Regions from separate parts of the Homo sapiens genome. Here region 1 is linked to region 2. Evidence: fine-mapped expression QTL. Tissue or cell type: whole blood. Region 2 holds a variant in brackets; the other region holds the start of a gene. All regions are shown on one strand. Distances are between the middles of the regions.

Region 1 (4,155 bases), 93 kb before region 2:
CCCCTCTTGGCTGCGGTTTTCTCATCTGTAATAATGCCTTCCTCCGGGCAGGTAGAGGGACAGAGTGTAGAAGGAATGTGCTACAAAAGCAGCCCTGGCAGGGTTAGGGGACCTGTGACCGGTGCAGGGGCACAGGGCCCGAGCTGGGAAGGGCACCACACCGGGCTCAACATCCTGCCCTTGATGCCCTGGGGTTTTGGGGTTTGGGGGTTTTGATCAAGGGGGCTCCACATTTTCATATTTTCATTTTGCATGGGGCCTTGCAAGTGATGGAGGCAGGGCAGCAGGCTGTGGTCTGGACCTGCCGCCTGCCCCCTTCGCTGGCTTCCCTGGGCATGTCCCTCCATGTTTTCATCTATATATGGGCTCATAGAAATAAATCAGATCAGGCAAAGCAGCAGCCAAAATGATCCCCATCGTCTCCTCCTGCAGCCTAGACAGACATCAATCATGGATGATCATGGCTGTCTCCTGTTGACCCTCGGAATCCACCTCAACACAGATCTCCGCCCGTTCCAGCAGCGCCAGCCTGGGTGCCACTTGCTGTGCGTGGAGCTTCAGACCCAGCCCAGGTGCCAGCCCATGGCCACCTCCTCCAGGAACTCCCCTAACTCACAGGTCCACATACTCTAAAGTGGACTTCTTTGGGGAAGGAGGCGAGGCCTGGTGGGAAACCCAGACAGGTAGGTGCTCCATCCAGTTGACAAGCACTGGGTGGGGGCGGGAGGGTGGGGGGGAGGTCCTAGGTTGAGTGAACCAATCAGACATGGGCCCCACCCCCTCCAGAGAGCAGCTGTGGGAAGGCTGTGCCCACTGGACCCTGGCAGAGAGCAGGAAGGGCTGGAGGACCCGTATGCCCCTGGGCAGCTCTCTTGGCCTCCTGGTCTCAGTGTTCCTGTCTGTCCATGGCAGTGGGGAGGGACGGCGCATATCCAGTGTTGTACCCCTGCCTCTCCTACCCACCCGCCACTCTCCTGTACCAGGCTCTGAGGGTAAGCCCCCACTTCTCCCCTTCCTTGGAGCCAGGGAATAGGTCACAGAAGTTGGCACGAGATGGGGTCTTAGGAGCTCCCAGCAGGCTGGCGGGTGGTGTGACAGTCCTGCTGTGCGATGATCTCATCATCAGGTGGGAGGGGTCCTTCCTGTCTGCCCCTGGGCCCACTGACGCCCGTTTCTTATGAGTACGGGGGATGGGGGAGCAGGTAGCAAGTGTAGACCGAGAACATTAAAAGGAGATGATACAACTCAGCTGGGAGTGGGGGACAGCCCCCCAATGCGTGACCTTGAGCAAGTCCCCGAGCCTCCGTGAAGTGGGGCTCTTGAACACACCCCAGAGGGCAACAGTTCTCCATTTCCAGGCCTGAGCTGACAGCACCGCGCCCACAAACCTCGCTGACCTCTGACTGCTCCGAGAGGGGGCTGTGGCCCGGGCGCTGTGGGCAACTCCTTCGTGGGTCTCCTGCGGGGCGCCCTGGAGAGGCTCGGTGAGGAAAGAGGCCCCAAGTGGCAACGCCCAGGGCTGCCGGCTCCCGCGCCCCCTCCTCGATTTCCAGCCTGGTCTGAGCTCACAGGGGAAGACCCGAGATCCTGCTCTCAGTTGGCGGACCCCACCGCAGTCTGGGACGGAAGCCCCCTCCCTGGCCCGAATCCGCTCCACACCCCAAGTCTGGCCCAAGAGAAACGTGGGCGTCAAGGCCTCGGGCTTCCTGAGCCGGTTGTCACTGCCCCCACCGCGCACGTGGAGCGTGCGGCAGAGCCCAGGGGTCTAGGGAGGGACCAAGGGCTGGGGGCGGAGTTACAGTGCGGGGGCGGAGCCTCGGCGTCTCAGGACCCAACCAGGTCGGGTCAGGTTTGGAGGCGGAGCTGGCGCCGAGAGGCGGGGCGCAGGATGCGGTGCCGCGGGGCAGCAGAACAGAACCGAATAGGTCTCAGACTCCCAGCGCGGCCTGGGGACATGACCTCCGGGCCAAAGAGGAGTGGGGGAGGCTAGAGGTCTCCCCGGGGCGCGGGCGGGGCCGAACCAGGAAGGGGCGGGGCATCGAGCGGGGCGGGGACAGTGCCTTGAAGGCCCAGACGGACAGGGGCGGGGCCGCAGCGCTGGGGTCGGAGCCAGCGCCGTAAAGAGCGAGGCGGGCGGGGGCGCGGTCGCGGCTCTGGGGGCGGAGCCAGAGCAACGAAGAGCCGGGCTGGCGGGGGCGTGGCCGCGGCGCTGGGGGCGGAGCCGGAGAGGTGCAGGGCCCGGCAGGAGGCACGGGGCGGGGCCGGAGCGCCGGGGGCGGGGCGGGAGGTGCGGCGGCCGACGACGCTCAGGCCCGGCCCCGCCCCGTGCCTCCAGCCCGCCAGGAGCGCCCTCGCAGTGGCCGCCTGCTCCGCCGCTCGCCGCCCGCGGGTTCCATTGAGAAAAGCCGAGCGGCCGCGGCGGCGGCGGCGAGTGCGCGGGAGCGGAGGAGCCGGCACCCGCCCGTCGGGCAGTCCGCGCGCCCGCAACGCAGGACCGTGGCCTCTCGGGCCTCCGCGGCAGCTCCAGCGGCTCCGGGGCTGGGCGCGCGGGCTGGGGGCGCGGGCCGGGGCGGCCGCGGAGACCGGGGGCCGGGGGCATGAGCGGCCCCGCGGCCCCGCCGCGCCCCCGCCGCCCGCCGCCGCCCGCCCGGGGCTAGAGGCGGCCGCCGGGAGGGCGCGCGGCGCCGGAGACATGTCCAGGCGGAAACAGAGCAACCCCCGGCAGATCAAGCGTGAGTCAAACTTTGCCCGCGGTCCCCTCCGCGCGCCCGACCCCCGCCGGAGCCCAGCCGCCAGCGCCGCCCCCGCCCGTCCCCGCTCTGCCCTGGGCGCCGGCGACCTTCACCCCGCGCCGCGCCCCCCGCGCTGTGCCAAGCGCGCCGTAATCTAATCTCCGCCGGCGGCCTGGGCCCCCGCGTCTCGGCTTGGGCACCGGGGGGTTCAGCCCAGGAGGGGGCCGCCCGGAGGCCGGGAGGAGGGTGTTTGGGGGCGCGGCCCGGGCAGCTCGGCCCCTCGCGGCCTGCCCCTCCCCCGCATCTGCGAGATGGTGCGGCGATAGGGCGGCCCCGATCTGGGCTCAGATAAAGTTTAAAATATTACATTCTGCAAGTCCCGTCCTGATAAGATCGTTCTGTCGGGACGGGCTGAAATTGTGATCTTATCTCGCGCGGTTGACTCTCCCAGGCTTTGTATCTAGAAGCGAAGAGAGAGACCTGGGAGGCAGAGGGGACACCCGGGGCCGCGGAGATGCCTGGCCAAGTGGCAGGCACCGGCCCGCGCCCACCCCCACCGGTGCCGTCGCAGAGCCGCAGGACAGGGGAGGGGGTAGCGCGCAGCTGCCGCAGCCTAGGCACTTGGCTCCAGCCCCCCAGACACCCCCACCCCGTGCCCTAGCGCTGAAGTCCTGAACCCAGGCCCCGCCAGCCTGGTGACACCTCCTGGACCCTGCAAGTGTCCCAGCCAAGGCGGCATGGGCAACAAATGGTGCCCTCGGATGCCCGCGGGCACCCCCTGGCATCCCAATGGGCTGCTCTGAGTCAGAGAAGGGCCTCCCAGGACGCAGCCCCGGGCCGGGGTCGCCCCTGCACGCCACTAAGTTTCTCGCTGGTCCGGCTCCCTGCCCGGTCAGAGGCTGCTGCCCCGCCGCCACATTGCCAGTGCCCCCGCGATGAGAACTAAGCTGTCGGGGCCACTGTCTGGCCTGGGCCTCTGGGCTGTGCCAGGAGGGAGCAAGAGCACAGGAAGCTACCCTCCCCACCCTATGCCAATAATAACTTTGCGCCTCACAGTTAGGGCCCAGACGCAGGTCTTCCTCCCCGGGGCGCCTCCCCGGAGCCTGACGGGCAGGTCGTCTGAGCCCTGCCAGGAGGCCACGACGGAAACCCGCCCGCTGCCCAGCCGTAGGCGCCCGGGCACTACCTCCTTTGTCCACACGACCACTGCCACCAGGACCCCTTGTGCGGGGCCTGTGGGAGCTTCCCTACTCAGGAGGTCTCCCGAGGCGGGGGTCACAGGCATGAACCGGTTCCCGTAACCCAACTCCCTCAGCGCAAACGGGACCTGTTTTCCGAAAGTCGCCTTCTATCGTGTCAACTCAAGTATTAAAAGCCACCCACAGGTCCCGATCCGCGCTTGTGCTCTGGTTTCTTTTTCCTT
Region 2 (4,155 bases):
ATAATCCCAGCACTCTGGGAGGCCGGGTGTGGTGGCTCACACCTGTAATCCCAGCACTTTGGGAGGCCAAGGCAGACAGATCACAAGGTCAGGAGTTCGAGACCAGCCTGGCCAATACGTGAAACTCCGTCTCTACTAAAAATACAAAAATCAGTCAGGCATGGTGGCTGGCGCCTGTAGTACCAGCTGCTCGGGAGGCTGAGGTAGGAGAGTCACTTGAACCTGGGAGGCAGAGGTTGCAATGAGCCAAGAAGCCAAGATCGCACCACTGCACTCCAGCCTGGACGCCAGAGCAAGACTCCGTCTCAAAAAAAAAAAAAAAAAGAAAAAAAAAAGCACTACCAAAGATCATCATTGTTGGCTGCACTTGTGGTTTCAGGCAGGTAGCCTTGGCGAGTTTGTTCATACCTCATGATCATTGGAGCTGAGATTTGCAAACTGCTCAGTGCAGCCCTGACTCCCTGTGAGTCAAAAGCCACTTCTCACCTCACCAGGAGCTGTGGTGTTTGTTGGGTGTCAATGTACGACTTTAGTTGTTGTTGTTTTAAAGTTCTACTGTGTGTTTTTTTAAAGGACCAGTGAAATTTGAAAATAGCCAAGGAAAAGAAAACTGGTTCCCACAATCACAGACACCACCATGGAACACACCAAGGCAATTTCTTCATTATAAAAATTTTATTATGAAGAGACAGGGGCCGGACGGGGTGGCTCACGCCTGTAATCCCAGTACTTTGGGAGGCCAAGATGGGTGGATCAAGAGGTCAGGAGATTGAGACCATCCTGGCTAACACGGTGAAACACCATCTCTACTAAAAAAATACAAAAAATTAGCCAGGCGTGGTGGTGGGCGCCTGTAGTCCCAGCTATTCGGGAGGCTGAGGCAGGAGAATGGCGTGAACCCGGGAAGCGGAGATTGTGGTGAGCGGAGATCGCGCCACTGACTCCAGCCTGGGTGACAGAGCGAGACTCTGTCTCAAAAATAAATAAATAAATAGATAAAATAAGAGACAGGGTCTCACTATATTGCCCAGGCTGGTCTGTGAACCGCTGTGCTCGATTGGTCCTCCTGCCTCAGCCTCCCAAAGTGCTTGGATCACAGGCATGAGTCGCCGCACCTGGCCAACACGGGGGCAGTTTTTGATGCAATGTCTGCAGTGGCTGGAGGGAGCTGGGCTCCTGCTCACATCATGCTTTGTGCTTCGGTTGCTCCCACTTCAGGGCTGCACTCACCCTCCCTCAGCAAACCTCAGACTTGGAAGAGGCTACCATGAGGGTGTGTGGCTTGGTTTAGACCTTGTTGACAAAGAAGTCAGTTAATCCCAAGTTCAGTAACTAATAAACATCAGCACATGGTAACACACAGTCTAACTACTAGTTTTTTTGTTTTTTTTTGTTTTTGGGTTTTTTTTTGAGACGGAGTCTTGCTCTGTCGCCCAGGCTGGAGTGCAGTGGCTCCATCTTGGCTCACTGCAACCTCCGCCTCCCAGGTTCAAGCGATTCTCCAGCCTCAGCCTCCTGAGTAGCTGGGATTATGGGCCTGGGCCACCACGTCTGGCTCTGTGAGTCAGCACAGGGAATCTTACCATGGACGCTGCCGGGAGATGCAGGGCCACTCAGGTGTGCACGTACACTGGATTCAAATACAGGCAGCAGACATAGACAACGATGCCGGGAGAGGGGCGGCTGGCAGAAGAATGGCCCCAAAGATGCCTGTGTTTTCATCCCCAGGGGGAGCCTGTGAAGGCGCAGCCTCATGCAGCAGAGGGGAGTTAAGGCTGCAGGGGAAGTTGAGGTTGCTCATCAGCTGACCCAAGATACAGAGATTACCCTGGATCATCCTGGTGGGCACAGCATAATCACAAAGTTCTTATCAGTGGAAGAGGGGTCAGGAAGAATACCAGAGAGGTGGGATGGGAGGACTCAATGGGCTTTGAAGATGGGGGGGGTGCCATGAGCCAAGGAACGGGGAGGCTTCCAGAATAAGCAGCTGGTTCTCCTCAGGAGCTCCCAGCTGGGGCCAGCCCTGCTCACGCCTGGACCTCAGCCAGTGAGACCCGCTTCAGTGAGCCCCACTGGCTCCTGAAGGCTGCTGCACCTGACTCAGGATAGCTGGGACTTGGAGTAGGGTGGGACACAGGGCACAGAGGGCCGGCCAGGGCTGCAAAAAGATCCCGGTGGCACCTCATGAGCTGGGGACAGGGGTCCTGTGCCCGACCATC[T/C]TGCGTCTCTTTTTGTTTCTACCTTTGCAATAATAATAATACAAGTAAAGTCAGATAGAAGTTCAGGAAGCATGCACATGGGATGCTCCAGTCTCCAGCCAGCACGAGGAAATCATCACTCTCCAATCAAAGGCAGAGGGCGAACAATGGCGCCATCACGGTGCACTGCAGCCTCAACCTCCTGAGCTCAAGGGGTCCTCCCACCTCAGCCTCCTAGGTGCTGAGGACCACAGGCGTGCAGCACCATTCCCAGCTATTTTTTTTTACTTTTTGTAGAGATGGCATCTCACTATGTTGCCCAGTCTGGTATCCACCTCCTTACTTAAGCAATCTTCCTTCCTCAGCCTCTCAAAGTGCTGGGATTACAGGCATAAGCCACCGCACCCAGGCCCGAGGTTGAGCTTTTGAGTGGCTGTCACCCTACTTTCCACAACAGTCACACCGATTGCTGTTCCCATCAGCAGTGCATGCCAGGCCTCCACATCCCACCAACACATGCTGCAGCACTGTCTGACTTCAGCATCTGAATGCATGAGAAGCGGAGTCTCACTGGGGCTGTAATCTGCATTCTCCAGTGACCGGCAGTGCCACGCAGCATCCCCCTGCTCACTGGCCACTGTATGTCTATGGAGAAACATCTGTCCAGACCCATCGCCCATCTCTGCACCTTTCTGCTCATTTCTAAGGTGAGAAAACAGAGGGTGGACAAGGTGAGGGAAGAGAGGGTGGAGAAGGCGAGGGGACAGAGGGTGGGGAAGGTGAGGGGACAGAGGGTGGAGAAGGTGAGGGGACAGAGGGTGGAGAAGGTGAGGGGACAGAGGGTGGGGAAGGTGAGGGGACAGAGGGTGGAGAAGGTGAGGGGACAGAGGGTGGGGAAGGTGAGGGGACAGAGGGTGGAGAAGGTGAGGGGACAGAGGGTGGAGAAGGTGAGGGGACAGAGGGTGGGGAAGGCGAGGGGACAGAGGGTGGGGAAGGCGAGGGGACAGAGGGTGGGGAAGGCGAGGGGACAGAGGGTGGGGAAGGCGAGGGGACAGAGGGTGGGGAAGGCGAGGGGACAGAGGGTGGGGAAGGCGAGGGGACAGAGGGTGGGGAAGGCGAGGGGACAGAGGGTGGGGAAGGCGAGGGGACAGAGGGTGGGGAAGGCGAGGGGACAGAGGGTGGGGAAGGCGAGGAGAGGGTGGGGAAGGCGAGGGGACAGAGGGTGGGGAAGGCGAGGGGACAGAGGGTGGGGAAGGCGAGGGGACAGAGGGTGGGGAAGGTGACCGGACAGAGGGTGGGGAAGGTGCGGGGACAGAGGGTGGGGAAGGTGCGGGGACAGAGGGTGGGGAAGGTGAGGAGACAGAGGGTGGGGAAGGTGCGGGGACAGAGGGTGGGGAAGGTGACTGGACAGAGGGTGGGGAAGGTGACGGGACAGAGGGTGGGGAAGGCGAGGGGACAGAGGGTGGGGAAGGTGACCGGACAGAGGGTGGGGAAGGCGAGGGGACAGAGGGTGGGGAAGGCGAGGGGACAGAGGGTGGGGAAGGCGAGGGGACAGAGGGTGGGGAAGGCGAGGGGACAGAGGGTGGGGAAGGCGAGGGGACAGAGGGTGGGGAAGGCGAGGGGACAGAGGGTGGGGAAGGCGAGGGGACAGAGGGTGGGGAAGGCGACGGGACAGAGGGTGGGGAAGGCGACGGGACAGAGGGTGGGGAAGGTGAGGGGACAGAGGGTGGGGAAGGTGAGGGAACAGAGGGTGACAACCATCCAAGTGTGAAACTCATGGGTATGTGCTTGGGCTGCAGACACCCTGGCCTCACCCCACCTTGGCCCTTTTGATCCATGAGACTGCACAGTTCCCCTCCTGGACCCTTGGTTCCCCCCACACCCAGGAGGCATAGAACAGGCAGGACATCCTGTGGCCAGAAAGATGATCGGGGGTCTCCAGGGCACGGAGCCCCCA

The links. PIP is the estimated chance that this variant, and not a neighbour inherited with it, causes the effect.
Region 1: it holds the start of ZFPM1, and the variant in region 2 is fine-mapped to the expression of ZFPM1 in whole blood (TOPMed, PIP above 0.99).

The regions. Positions count from the first base shown.
Region 1 is chr16:88,450,947-88,455,101 of GRCh38, forward strand. It overlaps ZFPM1 (zinc finger protein, FOG family member 1), which reads left to right and starts at 2,334. Exons shown (of 10, transcript NM_153813.3): 1 at 2,334-2,732. The coding sequence starts at 2,693. RefSeq lists silencers at 2,059-2,358, 2,369-2,458, 2,919-3,048, 3,269-3,338.
Region 2 is chr16:88,543,938-88,548,092 of GRCh38, forward strand. No RefSeq gene overlaps it. Among named protein-coding and RNA genes, the nearest start is that of ZFPM1-AS1, 15 kb to the left of the region's middle. The variant T/C (reference allele first, on the strand shown) is at 2,220.